Homo sapiens: one gene and its partners. The protein of the gene in region 4 purifies or fractionates together with the protein of the main gene of each other region. This does not show direct contact. Each region holds a gene or a part of one and is shown on either strand. Other genes may lie near its edges. The genes, in order: BTRC, TTC9C, NCBP1, ADAR, POLD3, DHX9 and CACNA1C.

Region 1 (3,500 bases), on a different chromosome or scaffold from region 4:
ACGCGGTAGCTAATGCCTATAATCCCAGCACTTTGGGAGGCCGAGGCGGTCGGATCACCTGAGGTCAGGAGTTCAAGAATAGCCTGGCCAACATGGTGAAACCCCGTCTACAAAAATACAAAAATTAGTCAGGGATGATGGCAGGTGCCTGTAATCCCAGCTACTTAGGAGGCTGAGACAGGAGAATTGCCTGAACCTGGGAAGCGGAGGTTGCAGTGAGTTGAGATCGTGCCATTGCACTCCAGCCTGGGTGACAGAGCAAGACTCCATCTCAAAAAAAAAAAAAAAAAAAAAGCAGATCCCATCTCTAGGCCAGGCATAGTGACTCACGCCTGTAATCCCAGCACTTTGGGAGGCCAAGGTGGGCGGATCACTTGAAGTCAGGAGTTCGAGACCAGCCCGGGCAACACGGTGAAACCCTGTCTCTACTAAAAACACAAAATTTAGCTGGGCGTGGTGGCACATGCCTGTATTCCCAGCTACCTGGGAGGCTGAGGCACAAGAATTGCTTGAACCCAGGAGGTAGGGGCTGCAGTGAGCCAAGGTTGCACCACTGTACTCCAGCCTGGGTGACAGAGTGAGACCCTGTCTCAATTAAGTTTTTTTAAAAAAAAGAGATCTCTTTTGAAAGTTTATTTTCTAATTTAGCAATAAATAATTTCTAAAACTACTCAAAGTTGAATTTTTACTCCACATCTAATAATTCACTTTTGATAATTTATGAAAATCTACTATAAACATAAATTTAGAAAATTAGCAAAAAGAGGCCGGACACGGCAGCTCACGCCTGTAATCTCAGCACTTTGGGAGGCCAAGGCGGGCAGATCACCTGAGGTTGGGAGTTCGAGACCAGCCTGACCAACATGGAAAAGCCCTGTCTCTACCAAAAATACAAAATTAGCTGGGTGTGGTGGTGCATGCCTGTAATCCCAGCTACAGGGGAGGCTGAGGAAGGAGAATCACTTGAACCTCAGAAGCAGAGGTTGCAGTGAACTGAGTTTGCACCATTGCACTCCAGCCTGGGCAACAAGACCAAAACTCCATCTCAAAAAAAAAAAAATACAACAAAATTAGCCAGGCAAGGTGGTACACGCCTGTAATTCCAGCTACTTAGGAGGCTGAGGCAGGAGAATCATTTGAACCCAGGAGGCGGAGGTTGCAGTGAACCGAAATTGTGCCACTGCACTCCAGTCTGGGCAACAGAGCGAGACTCAGGGTATCTCAGACAAAAAAAAAGAAAATAGGCAAAAAGAATTACCACTAATTTCATACCCCAACACCTATAAGAGTACCCAGAAAACAAACTGTTTGAAAGCCAATTTAAACTGGGAATAGGTAAAGTATACACAAAAACTCAGACAACTTAAACTAAGAACTAGTTTCAGATGTTCATCCCACTACCTGGTAATCAATTTCACTGATGTAAAGAAAATTCCATTACAGTGAAACATCTGACAATTTATTTTAAAATGTAATCTGTTTAGATACCTCTGTTTCCTGAAGTAAGTAAGCAAGTTTACTTAATCACATTAATTCACCCAGTATTATGTCAACAGTGACATCATTAAGGGAAGTCACGCAGGAGATCATGTTAGTGCCTTCCGAAGTTAACCTCAAAAAAAGAGATGCCTCCTAAACATTCCTAGCATTATGACCCACAAACTTGGCCGATACCATTTTTATTTTTAGCCTTAACATCCAACTAGCATAGCACCTACGGTAGCAAGTCTCAAAAGGTGGCCCCCAGCAATTCCCCCTTCCTTGTTTATGCACGCCACCCTTCCTATCAATAGGTAGACATTATTTCTCCTCCCTCTGTAGTTGGCCTTGACTGGCTTTGACCCACAGTGACATTCTTGGACTTCCAAATCTAGGATTTAGAAGACTGGCAGTCTCTACCTCCTGTCTCCTGGAATGTCCCTTCTTAGAACCTTGCCACCACACTTTAAGGAAATCCAAGCAGCCAGGTAGAGAAAGGCCCATATAGAGGAGAAGTGAAGGTCTTTCCCACACCTCAGCCAATACCAAGTGAAGCAGAAAAACCATCAGATTTGAGGGGAAAAATAATTGTTTTTTTTAAGCTAAGTTTTGAGGTTGTCTGTTAAACAGCAAATATTTACCCTTTATACTGTTTCATTTATCTATCAGCTCTATAAATAAAACAATACATTCTAAAATTATTTCATCTATTTCAAGCTACTGTACTTGATTCTGGGATTGGCTGGACAAGAATATATTTATCCTGTTTTTAAAAATAAACGTGGCTTGGCAAGGTGGCTCACGCCTGTAATCCCAACAATGGGAGGCCAAGGCAGGAGGACCCCTTGAGCCCAGGAGTTCAAAAACCACCCCTGTCAACAAAGGGCGACCCTTGTCTCTACAAAAACAAAAAAGAAAAAAAAAATAGCCAGCATAGTGGTGTGTGCCTGTAGCCACTTGAGACGCCGAGGCAGGAGGATCATGTGAGCCTGGGAGTTTGAGGCTGCAGCAAGCTATGACTGCACTCTAGCCTGGGCAACATAGTGAGACCCTGTCTCAAAGGTGAAAACAAAAATAAAGTTCAAATTCCTCCTCAGTATGTCTTTTCAACCCCTATCTTAAACGTGCTTGTGTGTGTGTGTTTGTGTGTTTTGGGGTCTATATTCCCTCAATCATTTTCATTTCTCTTCTTAGGTTCTCTTCAAGTTTCCATTTATACTTTTGTTAACCAAAAAAGTATTAAGAAAGGTCCTTGAGGACCTGCTAAAGCTGAATGAGAGACATTAGCACGTAAGTTAATGTAAACCGTTGCTTTCAATATCATTTATTTGTTTTTAAAAGTTAAACATTCTGCTTAAACTTTTTTCACAAGTAAAACAATAAGCTTTAAGTCTCGATCACGTGTGAATTATGGTCATCTCTGAATCAGCAGTCTTATTAACAGGATTTTATTGTAAAATTCTTTATCAAGGCACTTTAGTATAGCAATGAGCAAATTTGTGAGAGTATCCATTTCATTCTGGCATTTTAAACTAATTTTACATTTGTTTAAACCATGGAAATCATGACATCTGTATAAAAGTTGTCATTAGCGATTCACAATTGAGGGAAAGGTTAAGACCAGAACAAAGCCAAATAGTAATAAAAATGCCCGTTTGATTAAAAGGATAGTTCTTCCATGTGTACTGTGCACTAATTATTTGATGCTAGCTCAAATAGCTTCCTTTTTTTTTTTTTTTTTTTTTGAGACAGAGTCTCGCTCTGTCACCCAGGCTGGAGTGTAATGGCACGATCTCAGCTCACTGCAACCTCCACCTCCTGGGTTCAAGTGATTCTACTGCCTCAGCCTCCCGAGTAGCTGGGACTACAGGTGCGCGCCACCAGGCCTGGCTAATTTTTGTATTTTTAGTAGAGACAGGGTTTCACCATGTTGGCCAGGATGGTCTCAATCTCCTGACCTCGTGTTCCGCCCGCCTCAGCCTCCCAAAGTGCTGGGATTACAGGCATGAGCCACCACGCCT
Region 2 (3,500 bases), on a different chromosome or scaffold from region 4:
TCAGAGGTATAGGGTTAATTTCTCTTGCTGAGGCTCAGATTTCTCCTTCATGCATGTTTAATGGTCCACCTAAGTTCAACTGGAGGAGCATCTTTCTTCTTTGTTAACCAAACATGCCCAGGTAGAGCTGCTTCTCTTTTCTATGGTAGCTGCTGAGTTCTGACTGTGTCAGCTGGAGGTACCGCCGGACGTTGGCATCTTGGAAGATGATGGAGAAGCAATTAGAAACAGTTAGAGTCAGTTAAGACCATAATCATACCTTGTGGCAGGAGAGAATGTTAACATGCTCCCATTTTAAAATCTCTCCAAGATCTGAATATATCGCAACCATTCTATGCAATAGTAAATCTCATTAATTAATAACATTTGGAATTGAAAAAAAACAATCTCTGTCCCGGCTGCTAATTTTTATTTATTTATTTATTTATTTATTTTATTTATTTACTTACTTTTGAGACAGGGTCTCGCTCTGTCACCCAGGCTAGAGTGCAATAGCATGGGATCTCCACTTACTGCAACCTCCGCCTCCCGGGTTCAAGCAATTCTCATGCCTCAGCCTCCCAAGTAGCTGAGATTACAGGCATGCACCACCATGCTTGGTTAATTTTTGTATTTTTAGTAGAGATGGGGTTTCACCATGTTGGCCAAGCTGGTCTGGAACTCCTGACCTCGTGATCCACCCGCCTTGGCCTCCCAAAGTGCTGGGATTACAGGTGTGAGCCACCATGCCTGGACACTGGTTGCTAATTTCATAATGAAAGCAAGATTGATGAAGCAGTTATCATTAAAATAGAGCCTCTAAAGATACTATTCATATAGGTGGCAGTTAATTTATGTATTGGATGCTGAGAAACATGAACAAATGGCTTATATTTTATATCTTTATTAATTCATAATGGCTTTCTCATTCATTTAGATGAGATTTTACTGCACTGCTATACATTTGGTGACTCTGCTACTAGTATCCAGTGGCTATTGTAAGCCAGAATGCAAAAGGGAGACAATTTTCAGTGCTCAACCAACCAACACAGGAATGAGTCTCTCATCTGCTTCACAATATCCTTTTTGCCTTGGAAACAAAGTAAGTCCCAAATTCTCTCTCAGCAGGACTGCCCTTTTTCTAGGTCATACCTGGGGTTAGCTGAGCTAAAGGATAAAAATGATAGCTAAACCAAAGGCCAGACCCCATTTGGAGAACTGGCAGAATGAAAATTATCAAGTGTATTTGTTGGCATTCACACATCCTATTCCAATCACTGTTTTTTTGTTTTGTTTTGTTTTGTTTTTGAGATGGAGTCTCCCTCTGTCTCCCAGGCTGGAGTGCAGTGGCGCGATCTTGGCTCACTGCAAGCTCTGCCTCTCGGGTTCACACTATTCTCCTGCCTCAGCCTCCCGAGTAGCTGGGATTACAGGCGCCCGCCACCACGCCCGGCTAATTTCTTGTATTTTTACTAGAAACGGGGTTTAATCATGTTAGCCAGGATGGTCTCGAACTCCTGGCCTCACATGATCCGCCCACCTTGGCCTCCCAAAGTGCTGGGATTACAGGCATAAGCCACCATGCCCAGCCTCCAATCACTCTTAAAGACCAGGAACAGAACTTGAAAAACGACACTCGCTTTTTTTTTTTTTGGGATGGAGTCTGGCTCTGTCGCCCAGGCTAGAGTGCGACACAATCTCAGCTCACCGAAACCTCTGCCTCCTGGGTTCAAGCGATTCTCCCTGCATCAGCCTCCTAAGTAGCTGGGATTACAGGGGCCTGCCATCACGCCCAGCTTTTTTTTTTTTTTCCGAGACGGAGCCGCCCTCTGTCCCCTAGGCTGGAATGCACCGGCAGGATCTCAGCTCACTGCAAGCTCCGCCTCCCAAGTTCATGCCATTCTCCTACCTCAGCCTCCTGAGTACCTGGGACTACAGGCCCTCACCACCACGTCCGGCTAATTTTTTGTATTTTTAATAGAGACGGAGTTTCCCCATGTTAGCCAGGATGGTCTCGATCTCCTGACCTCGTAATCCGCCCACCTCGGCCTCCCAAAGTGCTGGGATTACAGGTGTGAGCCACTGCGCCCGGCCACACCCGGCTGATTTTTGTATTTTTATTTTTTTTAGTAGAGATGGGTTCCGCCATGTTGGCCAGGCTGGTCTTGAAATCCTGACCTCAGGTGATCTGCCCGCCTTGGCCTCCCAAAGTGCTGGGATTACAAGTGTAAGCCACCGTACCCAGCCCCAAAAAACAACACTGTTTTTTTTTTTTTTTTTTTTTTTTGAGACAGAATCTCGTTCTTGTTGCCCAGGATCTCGGCTCACCGCAACCTCCGCCTCCTGGGTTCAAGCAATTCTCCTGCCTCAGCCTCCCGAGTAGCTGGGTTTACAGGCATGCGCCACCATGCCTGGCTAATTTTGTATTTTTAGTAGAGATGGGGTTTCTCCATGTTGGTCAGGCTGGTCTCAAACTCCTGACCTCAGGTGATCCACCCACTTTGGTCTCCCAAAGTGCTGAGATAACAGATGTGAGCCACCCCACCTGGCCTGCCTATTTTATATATATATTCATGTATATGTATAAATATATACACTGTATATTTATAAATAAAAGCACGTTGATATACATATATTTATATATTAGAATAGGCATACATACATATATGAAACAGACATACCAACATATATATTGTGTATGTCTGATTAAGCATCAACCCCCTACACATGAAACTAATAATACTGCTTTTCTGTGGAGACAAGAACACAAGAGTGGAAAAAGGTCTGTTCATCGTATACTTTTTCAGTTCGAATTCTCAACCATGTGAATGTATTACTTATTGAAAATAATACATTGGCAAAGTAAAATAAAACCCCCTTTCCACAGATCCACCCCAGCAAGACAATTTTGTCTTTACCATTTCAAAGCCCTTCTTGCTTACCTTTAGGCTGCCTATTCACGGCAGCCAGGAGGTAGTGGCGGGCCTGGTCATAGTCCTGCAGATGGAAAAAGGCCACTCCGGCCCGATACAAGGCCTTGGCATTATCAGGCTGTCGTTCCAGGACTTTCTGACTATATTCTCTCACTCGTTCGTAGTTCACGGGCTCCATCTGAAGGAGACAAGCTAATGGGCCAAATGAAAAGAGAGAAGAGGTAGGAGGGGCTCGTTACACCAGGTTCCACTGGCCAGCTCAAGACAGTACTGAACAGGGTGGTAACAACATTCAGTCAACAAATGCTAAAGTGTCTCCCATATGCCAGACACTCTTCTACACACTGGGGATGCAGCAGTGAATAAAAGCTTCACATATCGGCCAGGTGCAGTGGCTCATGCCTGTAATCCCAGCACTTTGGGAGGCCGAGACGGGTGGATCACCTGAGGTCGGGAGTTCGAGATCAGCCTGACAACATGGAGAAACCCCGTCTCTACTGAAAATAAAAATTAGCCAGGTGTGGTGGCGCATGCCTGTAATCCCAGCTACTCGGGAGGGTGAGGCAAGAGAATCGCTTGGACCTGGGA
Region 3 (3,500 bases), on a different chromosome or scaffold from region 4:
TTGGTTTTGCACCCTTATTTTGTCATTTACATAATACATTATTAGACTAATGAATACTACTGGTACTAACAGGTTTCGGAACAAGCAACTGAGGATCAGTAAACAACTCAAGTTAAAAGAATGGGAGTAGCGGTACATGAGTATTCTAACTACTAGTGTTTAACATGTTGTTGGCAGCTTTCCAGCTTGTCCACAGAAATGGACAGGGCTGCTGATTGCATAGCTCCATGGGCACTACTCACACAAAATTTAACATAAATAATGCCTCCTGGAGTTATTGTATATAGTGGCTCTGGGAATGGGAGGCTGTTGGTTAATCTAGCTTAGTCTGAGAAATGGAGGGTCTGTGAAGAGCTTCTACTCTGTAAAAACATAGGGCCTGGTAGAAAAGAGATTATAACCTAAAAAGGTTAAATAAAATTTGTGATAGCAGATTTATCATGTAATGTTAATTTTTTATGTTGCTGAAATAGGTGGGCAGCCTCACAAAAGGAGAAAGACCTCTGATGCAAATGAAACTGAAGATCATTTGGAATCTTTAATATGTAAAGTAGGAGAAAAGGTATGTCACACAATAGGCACAGGCTGTGATGGGTTTAAGAATGTGGTTAACTGTGCTTTGATTAATTTTTGCAGCTGAAAAGTTGGACTACATTTTGGCAAAGCTGGTATTACCATGCATCTGTATCCCAAATTGAATCCATGTTGAAGCCCCTGGGATGTAGATAATTGATCATTTTTAGTACTTTAGTAATTAATAATTTTCATAGAAGATGAGCCCTTAGAAGGGACCTAGGGTATAGACCCCTTAATTTATGCATGAACTAAATCAGCCCTGAATACTTGAGGTAATTTGCCCAGAGTAAGAGAGTGAATTAGTAAAAGAGGTAAAATGGAGCCCATGGTGTCCTCCCATTTCTAATACTTATTCTGTTATCATAGACTGCTTAGTTTTTAAATTTCACTCGTCCACTTTTCATGGATTTCTGAAGAACAATAACTATCTGAATTGATTTATACTAAACCCATTATAGCTCTGTATGCATGTAAGACTATTTTAATGATCATGCAGAAGTTTTTATTTTAGTTCACTAAAATAGCAATTGAAAGGACAGATGATTGGTAATGATTTTAAAATGATAGATTTTAAAATATGTATATATTTACATTTAAATAGATTTTTAAAAATAAATTTATGTTGCTGAGTACTTGACAGATATTTAATGTGATGTCCTCTACAGAGTGCCTGCTCTTTGGAGAGCAACCTAGAAGGCTTGGCTGGTGTTTTGGAAGCTGATCTTCCTAACTACAAGAGCAAGATCTTAAGGCTTCTTTGTACAGTGTATGTATGCAAAAGATTTATGAATCCAGGTGATAATGTATTATCTACTCTTAAATGCTTTGGGAAATGTTCAAAATACATGTTTATGTTCTATATGTCCTTGGCTTTACTTCTATGGGGAAATTTGTACAAATGAGCCAACCTTTGGCGCTTTGGCGAACTCTTTTTCTTAGGGATAAAACTAAAATTGAACATTTTCCTTGTATGTTCTTACAACCTTAGAATCATTTTAGTTGACTTTTTATAGAGATAGTAGATACTGTCTCATTCAGATATATATTTTTAAGCATGTACATTTAAATGTATGATACTTACATTTTTAAATTAGTACCAGACAAATTTGGGAATTGGTAACTCAGGTAATAGCCCTTCTTGGAAGACTGAAGATGCTTTGGAAGCCACTGTTAATAGGCATACTCTCTGGATAAATGGGAGTCTTTGTAGTTACATGAAATTGTAATGTATCCATGAGGTGTTTTTAAATTATGAAGGTGATGTTTATCACTTCTCAGCCTTTTAGTTTAGATCAAGTGAAGGTAACTTTAAGAAACTACTAAGGAAATCTTCTGAAATCCTTTATTAAAATGGAGTAGTATTTACACTTAAACTGTTGGAAGCCTTGTTTGTTTAAGGCTGAACTTGTATTGCTTCGCAGTGTTCTTTTTTAATTTTTGGTTTTGGGAGGGTTTCAGGGACCACAGTTACCATCAACACAGGTATTTTTTTTGAAGACCTTGATTGTCCCTGATGTTCTGCTAGGTACTTTAGGAAAACAAGTCAAAGAGAATCTCTTGCCCACTTAATGATTATGAATTCTTATTGCTTTTTGAGCTAATTCTAAAGGCTGCCTAAATTAGGAAAAATTGCTTTTTCTAAAGGTTTATTGTAATCCTTTCCCATACTTTTAAAATAACTTTAATGAAATCAGCACACTTGGAGTAAGCAACTGAGACGTAAACAAATCTTAACTATATCAGAGTATGTTTTTAAAAAATTCAATAATTAAACTGGTAGGAACTTAGATGAAACTCGTTTTAATTGTGCATCTTTTCTAAACAACTAGAATAGTGTTTCTCAAAGTAGAATTCTAGTTCCATGACATTTGGTTAGCTAAGTTTAGAAATTCTGAATGCTGCACGCCCCCCCTTAATGATTCTGTATTAAAGAGGCTTGTTTCACCCAGGATTTCTGAGCTATTTTACCATGGAAACCATGTTCTGTGGAAATGCTATTCAGTTCCACTAAGCACACTTGAAGAAAAACTGTTGTAGCATTAGTTTTATTTATTTCAGTATGATAACTTTACAATTAAATCATTTACTTTCTTAACTCTTAGATTAACTGATGAATTAAAATGAAAAATTACGGGACTATGTCTGTAACATTTCTCAATGACATGCTTTTTCTGAAGTATTTTTAAAGACATAGCTAAAAGTAATCCTGTTCCAAAGTTAATGGAATGATAAAAAGATTCACATAAAATTCAGCAACTTAACGCCATTGTTTTGGGGTTTTCTTGTTATACTGGGTTCTTAAATCAGTGCACGCCTATTACCTGAGAAGCTGACAATTTATACAACATTAGTTGGACTACTGAATGCCAGGAATTACAATTTTGGTGGAGAATTTGTAGAAGCCATGATTCGTCAACTTAAAGAATCATTGAAAGCAAACAATTATAATGAAGCCGTGTATTTGGTAAGTTAGTTTGTTTGTTGGTATGTTATGACTACTGTTGGGATGGAGGGAAAAGGTGAACTACAACCAAATAATTTAAAATGCTCTCCTAAAACATTCTCATTCACTTTCATAGCTTCATAAGCCACCTTTATTTTGACGATACCCCCAAATCTGTAACTGTATCTCCAACCTTTCTCCTGAGCTCCAGTCCAGTATTCCAGATGCTAGCTGCATAGCCTTCAGATACCTTACTAGGAAGTGCCTAAATTAATGCATCATTCATACCTCCTTTTTTCTGCCCTCTCCCCAGCTCATACAGTGGCCACTGTGTACTGAATAACCCATCTAGAAAGCTGAGCATTAATTTTTGTCTTCCCTTTGCCCTCTCGTACCATAGGTGTTCCCAATCCCTGTCAATTCTGTCTCCCTAATTTCTCTCAAGTCTGTCCTTTCTTAGTCTCCAGGGCCTCTAGCATAG
Region 4 (3,500 bases):
CTAAAAATATTGGCCTTACCAAGGCCCGAGATATAAATGCTGTGCTAATTGACATGGAAAGGCAGGGGGATGTCTATAGACAAGGGACAACCCCTCCCATATGGCATTTGACAGACAAGAAGCGAGAGAGGATGCAAATCAAGAGAAATACGAACAGTGTTCCTGAAACCGCTCCAGCTGCAATCCCTGAGACCAAAAGAAACGCAGAGTTCCTCACCTGTAATATACCCACATCAAATGCCTCAAATAACATGGTAACCACAGAAAAAGTGGAGAATGGGCAGGAACCTGTCATAAAGTTAGAAAACAGGCAAGAGGCCAGACCAGAACCAGCAAGACTGAAACCACCTGTTCATTACAATGGCCCCTCAAAAGCAGGGTATGTTGACTTTGAAAATGGCCAGTGGGCCACAGATGACATCCCAGATGACTTGAATAGTATCCGCGCAGCACCAGGTGAGTTTCGAGCCATCATGGAGATGCCCTCCTTCTACAGTCATGGCTTGCCACGGTGTTCACCCTACAAGAAACTGACAGAGTGCCAGCTGAAGAACCCCATCAGCGGGCTGTTAGAATATGCCCAGTTCGCTAGTCAAACCTGTGAGTTCAACATGATAGAGCAGAGTGGACCACCCCATGAACCTCGGTAAGAGACCACCCAGGAACTGTACCTAGGGTTGGGGTCAGGTGCTTTTGCTCCTGACGCAGTCTTGGCTGATTTGTGAGCAGTGCTGTTTGGTGGCGCCTATCTTTTCCTCCTTCCCTTCTGCCTTTTAGCTAAATTCCCCTTGATTGGCCCTTTCTCCAGATATTGAGCAGGGAATATAGACCTTGGACCAGCCAGAATCTTGGCTGAACAAGGGGGAGGTTGACTCTGTTGGCTGTAATGAAGCTTCTTTAGAAATGATTGGTTTTGGCCGTACGCGGTGGCTCATGCCTGTAATCCCAGCACTTTTTGAGGCCGAGGCAGGCATATCACGAGGTCAGGAGTTTGAGACCAGCCTGGCCAACATGGTGAAACCCTGTCTCTACTAAAAATACAAAAATTAGCTGGGCGTGGTGGCGTGCACCTGTAGTCCCAGCTACTCAGGAAGCTGAGACAGGAGAATCACTTGAACCCAGGAGGCAGAGGTTGCAGTGAACTGAGATTGCGCCACTGCACTCCAGCCTGGGCCACAGAGCAAGACTCCATCTCAAAAAAAAAAAAGAAAGAAATGATTGGTCTTGGGGGCCGGGGCGGTGGCTTACGACTGTAATCCCAGCACTTTGGGAGGCCAAGGCAGGCAGATCATGAGGTGAGGAATTCGAGACCAGCCTGGCCAACATGGTGAAACCCCATCTCTACTAAAAATACAAAAATTAGCTGGGGGTGGTGGTGCTTGCCTGTAATCCCAGCTACTCGGGAGGCTGAGGCAGGAGAATCACTTGAACCCAGGAGGTGGAGGTTGTAGTGAGCCGAGATTGGCGCCACTGCACTCCAGCCTGGGCGACAGAGTGAGACTCCATCTTGGAAAAAGAAAGAAAAAAGAAAAACATGATTGATCTCCATGCATCAATATCATGCCTGCCTCCTAAGGCAGAGGTAATGAAGACTTAATTCCCTTCTGTAGGCCTTCCCCTCCTCCCTAAGCCGTTTTCTGAGAGAGGTGCAGGAGCAGGTGGGTTGGGGCAGGCTGCATACACAGTGGGGGTGGGTTGTGCTGCTAAGCAGCAGCAGGTCCACAATCCCCCCTCTGCATAGCTCCTGGGGGGAAAGGATGGAGGAGCGTGTGCACGGCTGCCTGCCTGTTGAAGGTGGTGGTTCTAATTTTATAAACCTCCTCTGCACAGATGGGTAGGCTAGCACTTGCTGCCACTCCTGAGCTGTGAAGTCAGCCTTTACCTCACTCAGATAGCTGGTCAGGCCCTGCACTGTAGGTCCTAATAGGCCAGTGGACAGATTGAGGAAAACAGGAGCTTCTGAAGGGCATAACAGAGAGCAAAACCACTGAAGCTGAGTGGCTGCAGCTGCAGCCAGGGAAAGAGCCAGTAGGATGGGGGAGAATTCCACTGACCTTTATGTTTACCTAGCCTGGTTTCTAGGGGTGTAGATTCCTGGCTAGGGCCCTTATTCCTTGTCTTGACTGTCTTCATGACACCAATTTGGCATTTCAGGAGAGCGGTTAAGAAAAGGAGTTGTGTCTGTCCAAAAGCTGGCAAGGCCAGAGCTGGATTGTTTGGGGTAGAGACTGGATGGCCGTCATTCTCTTTTGCCTCCATCCCTCCTCCCCAGAGTTGGAGGAAAGCAGTGGATTTTGTGGTTAGTCATTCTTTGGACTCACACTAAAAGAAACATTGGTGCCATGTTCAAATATATCAGAAGACCTAGGAAATAAGAAATTTGACCTACTTTTCTAAATGAAATCCCAGACTGAGCAAAGAGCTCACCACATTTGAAAGCTTGAACAAAGGGGGCCTAGGCTAAGTCCAGAGGCCTAGAACAAATGCTTTTTTATTTTCTACATAACAAGGGGAAATTCCTTGTTATGTAGAAAATAGCTGGAGACAAATGGTGCTATAGAGTGACTCATAACAAACTACGGTGATATAGGTCTAGGGACAAAAGCAGGCCACTGATAAGTGGCAGATGCCTGATCCCCCTAGGTAGTGGGGAGTGTGAGACTGGGTTATAAGAAGCCTTCACTATCTTTTAGGACCCTCCCTTGAGGAGGCCAGTCTACCACAATTGCTTTAGAATGAAGGTCTTTTGGTTGCTCACAAGACTATAATGGTAATTTTTGGCTCATCATTTTTGTGTGTGTGGGTTTTATCTTAATTCATTGTTAAAGAGATAGTGGGTTTCCCCTGAGCTAGTTTCCTATCATCTGTGCCTATGTTTGCTTCACTGAGCTATGGGGAAAGAGTCACTGGCTGCTTTGTTTACAAAAAGAAAGGACAGGCTGAGCCTTAAGGAGTAGGAAGGAGTTCCTTGGCCTACCCTTCATCTCCACAAGTGAAAAGCCCCTTAGCGTAGCAGAAAATTCCAGGTTGAAGGTCTCTTTGGAGAAGGCAGAAGGAGTGACCTAGACTCCTGTTCACACATCTAATCACTTTCCGTCAAGATTTAAATTCCAGGTTGTCATCAATGGCCGAGAGTTTCCCCCAGCTGAAGCTGGAAGCAAGAAAGTGGCCAAGCAGGATGCAGCTATGAAAGCCATGACAATTCTGCTAGAGGAAGCCAAAGCCAAGGACAGTGGAAAATCAGAAGAATCATCCCACTATTCCACAGAGAAAGAATCAGAGAAGGTAGGTGTCCTCCTGCCATCTGGGAGGATCAGTTCCCTGTCAGTGTCTGGATTGTAACTGACTCCCTTGAGGCAATCCCAGCCTAAACAACTGACACCATCTCGGAGTCAGCTTCCCACTCTTCCCTCTACCCTATCTCGCCAGCCCACCTTTCCTCCTCTCATACCCAGCTCCTCTGTCTGCTCCTGTCCCAACATAATTGGATTTACAGAATT
Region 5 (3,500 bases), on a different chromosome or scaffold from region 4:
TTTTACAGTCAACTTTTTTTATAAGTAGAAAGACTACCCTCTAAAATGATAAAAAGTATAGTGCAGTAATTATAGTAGCATAGTCATTTTTATTATCAAGTATTATGTATATATAACTATTAATATATATGATATACTTTCACATGACTGGCAGCACAGTAGGTATATTTATACCAGCATCATCACAAACACGTGAGGAATGTGTTGCGCTACCATGTCATGACAGCTATGATGTCACTAGGCAATGGGAATTTTTCAGCTCCATTATAATCTTACGAGACCACTGTCATATATGCAGCCCATTGTTGACCCAAACATCGTTATGCAGCGCATGAGTAATCTTATGAAGTTAGCACAATTTTGACACAGCAACTTGATAAAGACATTACCAGAAAAGAATGTAACTGACCTGTAGACCTCATAAACACAGGCAACAAATGCTTAGTGTAATATTAACAAATCTAATCCAGCAATATATAAAAAAGGATAATACATCATAACCAAGTGGAGTTTATCCCAAGAACACAAGGTTGGCCTAACATTTTAAAATCAGTGTAATTCACCACATTAATAAAAACACCATCTGAGCATCCAATCAATTCAAAAAAGCATCTGTCCAAAATCAATACCCACTCATGATAAAACCTCTTAGCAGACTTGGAACAAAAAACAACTTCCTCAATCTGGTTAACGGCATCTATTAAAAATCTACATTTATCATCACATTTAGTAGTGAAATACTGAATGCACTGCTGGCAATAAGTATCAACAGTGAGTGACGTACCCATGGTTGTGGACATTTTAATCCATACAAGTCATATGTTCCTAGGTGGTGAGGCCCACTGGACAGAGCTTTAACCCTCTAAAATTTCACCATTTTGTTGATGTTTTCAACGAGAGTAGTCCCAAACTTGCCACAAAAGTCGTCTTTCTAGGCCTATCAGTGTTGACAGTGTCCTTTAGAATTTCTTTCAGCAGACTAATTCTACCAACTATGAGGTAGTGTCTCCAATTCCTGGATCTAGTTTTAATAGCTTTATGTGCTTTTTATTTTCTTTTCTAATTACATTTTACCACTTGAAAAATAAACTCATTGATATAAAAAGAAAACAAAGAAGTTTTTCTCTTAAATTTGACTGGAAACAGTAACTGTTCATTTGGCAATTTGAAGTGAAACACACACACACACACACACACACACACACACACAACTAGGCACACTTATGCCATGTCCACAAATTTAAAACAAAAATCAACAATCAATTTAGATCAATACGGCCAAAAACACGACTTTGGTCCTTAAATCATCCAAACTGGCTGATCCTACGGTCCTACTCCACTAGATAAGCTACTGGGCTTCTCTTTCCATTTTGGTTGTATAGTTGTATCCCTTAGGCATTAAGTAGGATTTAGTACTTAACTGAAAACTGCCTGCTGTCAATAAGCCCAAAGAGACCTTCTCACCCCCAGTAAAGACTCTTCCCCAATAAGCAACAAAATTTTCCTACCTTTTTTTTTCCTTCTGCAGCACCTTAACAGGCTCTGCTTTTTTGCTGGATTTTTTCAGGCCTGCAGGAGTTGCCAGCTTTGGTTCCGTGACAGACACTGTAGGCTGCTCCACTATTTTTTCTTCTTTCACTGCTTGTTCTGAGTCCAAATTGACTTTAAATTTATCTATAAATAAAGTATAGCAGACGACATATGACCCCATCATGCAATATTAATACATCATTCTTTTGACAGTCTACCATGTGCCAGGTAATATGTTAGGAGCAGGGGCAAAAAGGAGCTCATGGACTATTCAGAAACATTCCTCCTTTCCAACTACCACTCTAACTGTAACTTTTCATTTCTGCCTCCTGCTAATCCCTCATTGTATCACAGCCCCCAGGCTAAATGATAGTAAAAGCAAGGCTTAGAAAAAACACATACAACTTTATGAGGCATCATCCTTCTCATTTTCAGATGAGGAAAATCAAGAATCAGAAGGATTACAAGATGTTTCCCAACAATACACAGTTTACAAATGGTGACAACGATTTGCAGCAAGACCTTTGCTTTCTATATATTCTATCTTTTAATGCCTGGATACCCTTAATATCTCACTACTACCTTAATGATAAAATTTAAAGACTATTTTGGAGTCAAAGAAGTTTGGTTCAAACCCCGCTTCACTCTGGGCAAGTTATTTTATCTAAGTCAGTCTTTTCTAAACCTGAGATAATATTTACAAGATTATCATAAGGATTAAAAGAGATCAGTATTGGTTAAATGATTTATCCAGGTAACACTGACAGAAAAGAGTAGGGATTTGAACCAAAGTCAGTTTAACTCCTCAAAGTCCTTAACCCTTTCCCTACACCAAGCTGAAGAATGACTACAGTGCAGCAGGGAGAACTAAGAAATGCAAACAGGCCTAGCCATCTGAGGAACTATAGAAGCATGTCATCTAGCCTTCACGCTGTACTTAGTGATAGCTTTTCACAAGTAAAGGCACAAAATACTATTAGAAAGCTGTCATTAGCTGGAGGTGCTTCAATAAGTAGTTTTGGTTATATGTTGTATAATAGCTTAAACCATCTACAGTGTAGAAAAAAATTGGTATCATAGTCTGGGCTATTATGCATAGCTTAGTACAATAATTTATAAATAATGTGTATTATTTGAAGGGTAGTTGATGGACCAAAGTGTAAAATGCAATCTATTTATACTTTTCTTTTTCCTGAAGACTTGAATGGAAAATGCGAATGGTGGAATCCACCTTCCCAACGATGGCATACTCTTGCATTTTCAACTGTTGTTCTCAAGTATCAGTGCCTCTCAAATATCCCAAATTGTATAGAAGAGTAAACATGCATCTCCAGGGGTCTAGGGGTCAACAGCCAATCCAAAAAATACAGTTCACTGGAGTCACATGTGTAGCTTTAAAATTTATGCAAATTTTGCAATCTATCACATAAATTATATTGTTTTAATAGCAATTGTTTTAAAAATTGCATCATTAGGAGAAAAAAACCTCCAAATACTTCCTACCTACCTATGGATTAAGGAAAGAGAGGCTATTGCATTGAGTTTACCAATTACAGAAAACTGATCTGAATTAAAATGCCACTGATCAAACATTAGATTCAGCATCCAGAGTTTCTTCTGTCTTGGTTTCACAGAATTTTGAGAACTCCAACTTAAACATATATGCAGCTACCAATAGCCAATTAACTGGTAAAGAGGTAGTTTAATGCAACATTGTAAGGCAATTATTAAGGAAAATTTAATGACTTTTTTTGTTACCTGAATGATCAAGTCACCTATCTTCTAGCTGATTAAAAGCATTTCCTTTTTATACTCAAGAAAACACGAAACCTTTTCAAGCAAATAAAGATAACCAATTATGACCTTTAAATTTTGTCATCAATGCTGAATTTTATTACATATAAAGCGTTACTTTTAAAAATTGAGATATAATTCACATACAATAAAATTCATCACTTTACATTCAGCGT
Region 6 (3,500 bases), about 28 Mb from region 4:
CAAGATATGGCGGAGGCAGCAGGGAGCTCCCATGCCCTGCCTCGAACACCATTCTTCAGGAACCTCCACCTGTTCGGCCATTTGGAAGCCCTCCAAACCCTGTCCTTTGGTTTTTATGGAAACTTCATTATTCAGTATTGATTAAATCGTTGGCCATTGGTGACTTGACCTTCAGCCCTTCTCACTTCCCCAGAGGCTGGGAGGTGGGACCGAAAGTTTCAGCCCTCTAATCTTTCCTTGGTGGTTCTGGTGACCATCCCCCCACACCTGAAGCTACCTAGGGCCTGCCAGCCAGCAGTCAACTCGTTAGCATACAGAAAGTCTCCACTTAGGAGATTATAAGGATTTAGGATTTCTATGCCAGGGAAATGGGATTGAAGACCAGATGTACTTTTTTTTTTTTTTTTTGAGATGGAGTTTCGCTTTTGTTGCCCAGGCTGGAGTGCAGTGGCATGATCTCGGCTCACCGCCACCTTTGCCTCCGGGTTCAAGCGATTCTCCTGCCTCAGGCAGGAGTATCTGGGATTACTGGCATGTGCCGCCATGCCCGGCTAATTTTGTATTTTTAGTAGAGACGGGGTTTCTCCATGTTGGTCAGGCTGGTCTCCAACTCCCAACCTCAGGTTATCTGCCCGCCTTGGCCTCCCAAAGTGCTGGGATTACAGGCGTGAGCCACTGAGTCCAGCCAGAGACCAGATAGGCTTTAAAGATAATATGACACTGTCTACTTGCTGTTTTCTGTAAGAAGTCAGCTATAATCAAATCACTCTCTCCCATATGTAATGTGGTAGTCTGTGTTTTTAAGATCTTTTCCTGTTATTTTTGGTTTTTAGTATTTTGTGTTGTGACCGGGCATGGGTTTTTTTGTATGTGTGTGTTCTAACTTGTTCAAGGTTTGCTGAGATTATTGAATCCATAGATTTATGTATTTCACCAACTTTGAGAGACTTAGCTATTATTTAAGATATTTTTTGTTTTATTTTTTCTTCTTTCCTCTTGGTGTTTATATTTATAAAGACTTGATATCCCACAGGTCCCTGAGGCTCTCTTTTTTTTTTCCTATCATTTTTTCCACTGTTTCTCAAATTGAATAATTTTTATTGATTATCTTCAGATTCTTTGATAGTTTTTTCTGTCCCTTCCATTTTGCTAAGCCCACCCAGTGTATTTCAGACACTACCTTTTTCACTTTTAAAATCTCCAGCTTATTCTTTTCTGTATGTTTTCTCTGGTGGCATTTCTTTTCATTCGTTATAAGTGTATGTTTGTAATATAAATATGGATTTCTTTTATGTCATGAAGCTTAATTCTAATAGCTGCTTTAAAATCCTTGCCTACTACTACTAACATCTGAGTCATCTCAGGGTTGGATTCTCTTGATAGGTATATTTTCTTGAGGTTGGATCACATTTTCCTCTTTGTGTATCAAATAATTTTTTATTGCATTCTGGGCATTGGAATATTATGCTGTGGAGACTCTGAATAATGTTATACTCCTCCAAAGAGCATTGATTTGGTTTTTTTGTTTTGTTTTGTTTTGTTTTTAATCAGGCATTTAATTTAACTGGACTCAAACTGCAAATGCTGTCTTTTGGATGTTAACTCAGATCTCACCTCAGTTTTCTGATCATTTAGGACAGCCATGGAAGAGTCCTTCAGGTCTCCTTTGCTGGGCAGCTTGGAATCTGCCCTGTACATGAGTGGTTTTCAAGGGTTAGCCAGAGATTTCAATATACAGAATTCGGGGCTCCTCCTCTCTGGCTGTTTCCTTTCCAGCATTCCCTCACTTTCTAGCAGCTTTGCTTTCCCTGAACTCTAATTCTGATTCTTCAGGCCAAAAAGATGGTTTCATTGGAGGTTTAGCTGCCTGGGATGGCTTCTCTCAGGCTAAAAGCTACAGTAAACTGGAATTAGACCCTTGATACTCCGTGCTTCCCCATTTTAACTTCTCTCAAGAATCTACCTGCTTTTTTCGTTCATTTTTTATTGCCTGCATATAGTTCTGGTGTGTTGTGTGTGTGTTTGTATTTTTTCCCCCTAAAGTTTATTTTACCTGCAGGAGGGTCAGTCTTACAGGAACTTACTTGGCTACAACCAGAAGTAATCCCCTAGGTGATTTTTTTATTATTGTTTTAACATGGCTCAGGTGTTTCCTATTAAATGCTCTGTGGATTTCCTACTTTCTTCCTTATTTCCTCTGTTCCAGCTACAGTAGCTGTACTTCTTCATAGGTCTTCAAATAAGCCCTCATCTTTCTGCCTCAAAACTTCTATACCTGAAGGACTCTTCCCCAGCTGTCCTATTTAACATTATAAACATTGTCACCCTCAGGTTACTTCCTAAACTCCTTCAATGCTTTATTTTTCTCCGTAACACTTACTTTTTAACTCAGTGTTTCTCAACTGGAGACCATTTTGTCCCCTCAAGGGATGTTTGGGGATGTATGGAGATATTTTTGTTGTTGTAACTCGAGGAGGCCACTGACATCTAGAAGGTGAAGGCCAGGGATGCTGCTAATGACCTACAATGCACTTGACAAACTCCTACAACAAAGAATTAACCAGCCTAAAATGTCACCAAGATGAGAAACCTTGTTCCAACGTAATTTATTTTTGTTTCATTGTATTAGAATGTAAGTTCGTGAGGGCAGGGATTTTTTTGTTTTTAGTTCGTTGCTGTGTCTCCAACATTTAGAATGGTTCCTGGTCTATAGCAGATACTTAAATGTTTTTTGGTTGACTGAGTAAATGAATGGATGAATTTGGAAAAAAAAATTATAACAACCCATTTCTACTTTTAACCCCACTGTATTATTAGTCCATTCTTGCATTGCTATAAAATACCTGAGACTGCATAATTTATAAAGAAAAGAGATTTAATTGGCTCACAATTATGCAGGCTTTACAGGAAGTGTGGTACTGGAATCTGCTTGACTTCTGAAGAGGCCTCAGTAAACTTAGAATGATGGCAGAAGGTGAAGGGGAAGCAGGGATGTCCTACATAGCAGGAGCAAGAGAAAGTAAAGGGGAAGATGCCACACACTTTTAAATGACCAGATCTCATGAGAACTCACTCACTGTTGCTAGGATAGCAGTACCAAGGAAAGTGGTACTAAACCATGCATGAGAAACCCACCTCATGATCCAGTTACTTCTCACCAGGCCCTACCTCCAACATTGAGGATTAAAATTTGACATGACATTTGGGCAGCGATACGTAACCAAACTGTTACCAGCTACCATCTTTATCTTACCTCCTCATTCTAGGGAAATCCTTTTTCATAATCACTTATTTCATCTGGAACTTACCCTTTCATGCCATAAATTGCATTTGCCAAAAGTGAGCATGTAGAGGATATTTTAAAATTTTTTTTGCTGTGGACAATTGTAGATGTGTATAAAAGAATAATATAGTGAAACTCCATGTTTCCGTCATCTGGCTGCAACACTTTCAATTTTACTCATTTCTAACTACTCCCCTTTCTTAGATTATTTTGGAGC
Region 7 (2,732 bases), on a different chromosome or scaffold from region 4:
ACAAATTATTTTTACTTAAGGGGTTATTCTGAAAGGTTTATCGAAATCAGATTAAGTTATAATAACAAAAAAAAAGAAAAGCAATCTTACATTTGTATAGTCCTCATAGTACTTTATATATTATCATATCTCCCCCTCCTTTCTTCTCTCCTACATTCCATCCCTCTTCCCTTCTGTCCTTTCAAAACCAATTTCAGAGACTGCTTTTCCTGTCTAATCCATGTGAATTAGCCATTTAATTCCTCTGATTTTGTCTCCTTTTTAACTTTTGGCCATTTTTCTGTCAACTCTTTCATGAGAAGGAAGAAATAGGGGATGGGTTAACTGCTGAATGGACTTAGGTATTATCATTGGATTCATATTTCCTGTGTTCTCTCCAGTCTTCTTCCTTTTGGGGATCCCAGACAGTTGAGATAACTGAGTGAAGTTTGTATTTGTGACCTCTAGGAAACAGGAGAAAGGAAGAAATAAGGAAGAGGGAAGATACAATGAAGTCAATGTAGACATTGTTAAGAAATTTATTTGCAATTCTTATTTTTTGTGTTTTTTGTTTGTTTTTTAAATAACATCATTCCTTAGATAAAAATGCAATCTTACAGGAATATACAATAGTGTCTCACACAGAGATGACCCTGAAGCTCTCCTTGAAGGGTTGCCCCTTCTAGATTCCCTGGCCTTTCTCGAGGGTGAGAAGGCCCATCAGGCGAGGCCTCTGACAATGGGATTATTTGAGGATTACAAACTGTACAATGATATTTACAACAGTAAGACTGTGAAGTCGTGGAGCCTGGAGGGGAGGGTGTGGGGGTGTGTAGGGGTGTGGGGAATGGTGACAACGGAGGCACTGCCCATCTTTCTGTGCCTCTCTGATAACAGGCATGATACAGATTGGTTTGGGGGATGAAGGTGGGTTTGAGCTGGAGGACATGAGGGAAGGGGAGATTAGAGGAGCTTTATCTGGAGCGTTTCACAGGAGGAAAGTTTTGCATGGTAGCTCTGGTGGATTAAAATAAAACAGCAATATTATGAGAGTAATAGACCTTTCAGTGCTTCACCAACGGGGAATCTGTCGCCCTATTTCTTAATGAATGTGCGTGTTTTGCCATGGGTTATTCTCATCCACTACCATCACAGACTTGTCCAGACATGCTCATCTCTGTTTCCCATGGCCTCACTCCCACGAGGCTTGGGGGAACAGCATGCATTCTGGCCAGGACAGGACATGGCAATGGGGTGGTATATAACCTGGCTGGGATTCAAGAGATGGATTTCAGGTGTGGGTATGGGCTGCAGCTGGATGCATAGGTGGCCTGAGGCAGGAAAAGAGAAGGTGCGCACAGCTTTGGGATGCTGGAGACACCTCCTGAAGGGGATCTTTCTGCACAGGACTGTGTGTTTACAAATCATCTTCCCTTGATGTACAAGTTCTTTCCTTTTCCCCTTTTAAACATTGGTGTAGTTTCTCCATATTGGGAAGTCTTGGGGTTGGGGGCTATGTCCAGGACCCAGTGACCCACCCTCTTTTGCTTCTCTTGTGACTCTACAGGAGAGACTTCTCTTTTCTCCTGGCCAATGGCCAGGAGAGGTTTCTTCAAGGGGGTCCCTGAAACCTGCAGCCTCAGGTTCCTTGGCAAGGGAGCCACTGCTTGGCCTGGTGCCTGCTCACCTTTTTTTCCTTATTCCCTTGGTAATAAACTTGAGATCTCTAAGATTTCCACAATGGGAATTCTCCAGACCCAAACAGTGAATAAGAATCATTCTGTCCATTTCTGCATTTCCTCACATAGAAATGACCCTCTCTTAAAACTTACAAACTCTTCCACCCAGAGCTTTTTTTTTTTTTTTTTGGATAATGACCTTGGTTTGAGGTGCATGAGTGAATTTTAGAAATGAATGTACAATGTATGTCTGATTCACACCAGGGGAAGTGGCACAGTGCCCTTTCTGGGATCCCTACAAAGTCAAATTCCTTAGATCCTGAGAAGTGGAGTGCATGGGATGCCCTGAAAAGGTGGGGGTGTCCCTGTGTAGCAGCCAGTAACTGATCTGAAGGGAGAGGACTTGGCTCTGGTGATGTAACATTTCAAGCCTCTGTGTAATTACCTAGTCTTAGTCTTTTCTTCCTCATTCTTAGTAGAGACGTGGGGAACTTTCATGAAAAATGCTAATTCTGACTCCTCTCAGCGTGCAACAGATTTGTTACACTTCATCCACTCAGCTGCAAGATCTAGAGTGCTTTCAGAGGTGACTGGAAGAGTTCTCTAATACCCTACAAAGACCATGGATCTTTGCCACTTCAGGTGCTGTGGCTCAAACCTCTTAAAGTCATCCCAGGAAAAAGTGTTGATTGTAGTATTCTCTCAATGTATGTAAATAGAATTTATGTCATAATAATAGTAGGTTCTGATGGTACTACTTCCATCCAAGGGAGTCACTCTACTGCACCCTCCTTGTCTGTGTATACAGTGCTCACCCTTGCAGGAGCAGGAAAGTCCCTCATCTAGAGCTCAACCCCAGCCCTTGTGCCTTAACGGTGTGTGTCTGTGTAGTGAGGGGGGTTGTTCAAGCATCCCCCGTCAATGTAGAGATGTGGCAGAAACCCGTTCACCTGTTGTATTGGTATCTGGCTCCAGAAAGAAAAGTTTCATTGCTTTGACATAAGAATAAATTGATGAATGAAGTTAAACCCAGAAGAGGCTTCACAAAGAGGTCGTGTAAGCATCTGCCCATGG

Evidence for each region.
Region 1: the proteins of ADAR (region 4) and BTRC purify together in Homo sapiens (affinity purification with western blotting, with the first as the bait; 2 studies listed by BioGRID). This does not show direct contact.
Region 2: the proteins of ADAR (region 4) and TTC9C fractionate together in Homo sapiens (co-fractionation; one large-scale study listed by BioGRID). This does not show direct contact.
Region 3: the proteins of ADAR (region 4) and NCBP1 purify together in Homo sapiens (co-immunoprecipitation; one large-scale study listed by IntAct). This does not show direct contact.
Region 5: the proteins of ADAR (region 4) and POLD3 purify together in Homo sapiens (tandem affinity purification; one large-scale study listed by IntAct). This does not show direct contact.
Region 6: the proteins of ADAR (region 4) and DHX9 purify together in Homo sapiens (affinity purification with western blotting; 3 studies listed by BioGRID and IntAct, with this or other methods). This does not show direct contact.
Region 7: the proteins of ADAR (region 4) and CACNA1C purify together in Homo sapiens (co-immunoprecipitation; one large-scale study listed by IntAct). This does not show direct contact.

Annotation. Positions count from the first base shown.
Region 1 is NC_000010.11:101,357,165-101,360,664, reverse strand, and holds part of BTRC (F-box/WD repeat-containing protein 1A), read right to left. Parts: intron 1-3,500. UniProt on the Homo sapiens protein: Substrate recognition component of a SCF (SKP1-CUL1-F-box protein) E3 ubiquitin-protein ligase complex which mediates the ubiquitination and subsequent proteasomal degradation of target proteins. Recognizes and binds to phosphorylated target proteins.
Region 2 is NC_000011.10:62,734,986-62,738,485, reverse strand, and holds part of TTC9C (tetratricopeptide repeat protein 9C), read right to left. Parts: intron 3,105-3,500; coding exon 2,922-3,104; intron 199-2,921; coding exon 104-198; 3' UTR 1-103.
Region 3 is NC_000009.12:97,640,321-97,643,820, forward strand, and holds part of NCBP1 (nuclear cap-binding protein subunit 1), read left to right. Parts: intron 1-473; coding exon 474-562; intron 563-1,241; coding exon 1,242-1,342; exon of another isoform or gene 1,343-1,348; coding exon of another isoform or gene 1,349-1,371; intron 1,372-2,883; coding exon 2,884-3,040; intron 3,041-3,500. UniProt on the Homo sapiens protein: Component of the cap-binding complex (CBC), which binds cotranscriptionally to the 5'-cap of pre-mRNAs and is involved in various processes such as pre-mRNA splicing, translation regulation, nonsense-mediated mRNA decay, RNA-mediated gene silencing (RNAi) by microRNAs (miRNAs) and mRNA export.
Region 4 is NC_000001.11:154,598,187-154,601,686, reverse strand, and holds part of ADAR (double-stranded RNA-specific adenosine deaminase), read left to right. Parts: coding exon 1-646; intron 647-3,101; coding exon 3,102-3,285; intron 3,286-3,500. UniProt on the Homo sapiens protein: Catalyzes the hydrolytic deamination of adenosine to inosine in double-stranded RNA (dsRNA) referred to as A-to-I RNA editing.
Region 5 is NC_000011.10:74,623,582-74,627,081, reverse strand, and holds part of POLD3 (DNA polymerase delta subunit 3), read right to left. Parts: intron 1,675-3,500; coding exon 1,509-1,674; intron 1-1,508. UniProt on the Homo sapiens protein: Accessory component of both the DNA polymerase delta complex and the DNA polymerase zeta complex.
Region 6 is NC_000001.11:182,845,847-182,849,346, forward strand, and holds part of DHX9 (ATP-dependent RNA helicase A), read left to right. Parts: intron 1-3,500. UniProt on the Homo sapiens protein: Multifunctional ATP-dependent nucleic acid helicase that unwinds DNA and RNA in a 3' to 5' direction and that plays important roles in many processes, such as DNA replication, transcriptional activation, post-transcriptional RNA regulation, mRNA translation and RNA-mediated gene silencing.
Region 7 is NC_000012.12:2,695,719-2,698,450, reverse strand, and holds the end of CACNA1C (voltage-dependent L-type calcium channel subunit alpha-1C), read right to left. Parts: 3' UTR 501-2,732; downstream 1-500. UniProt on the Homo sapiens protein: Pore-forming, alpha-1C subunit of the voltage-gated calcium channel that gives rise to L-type calcium currents. Mediates influx of calcium ions into the cytoplasm, and thereby triggers calcium release from the sarcoplasm.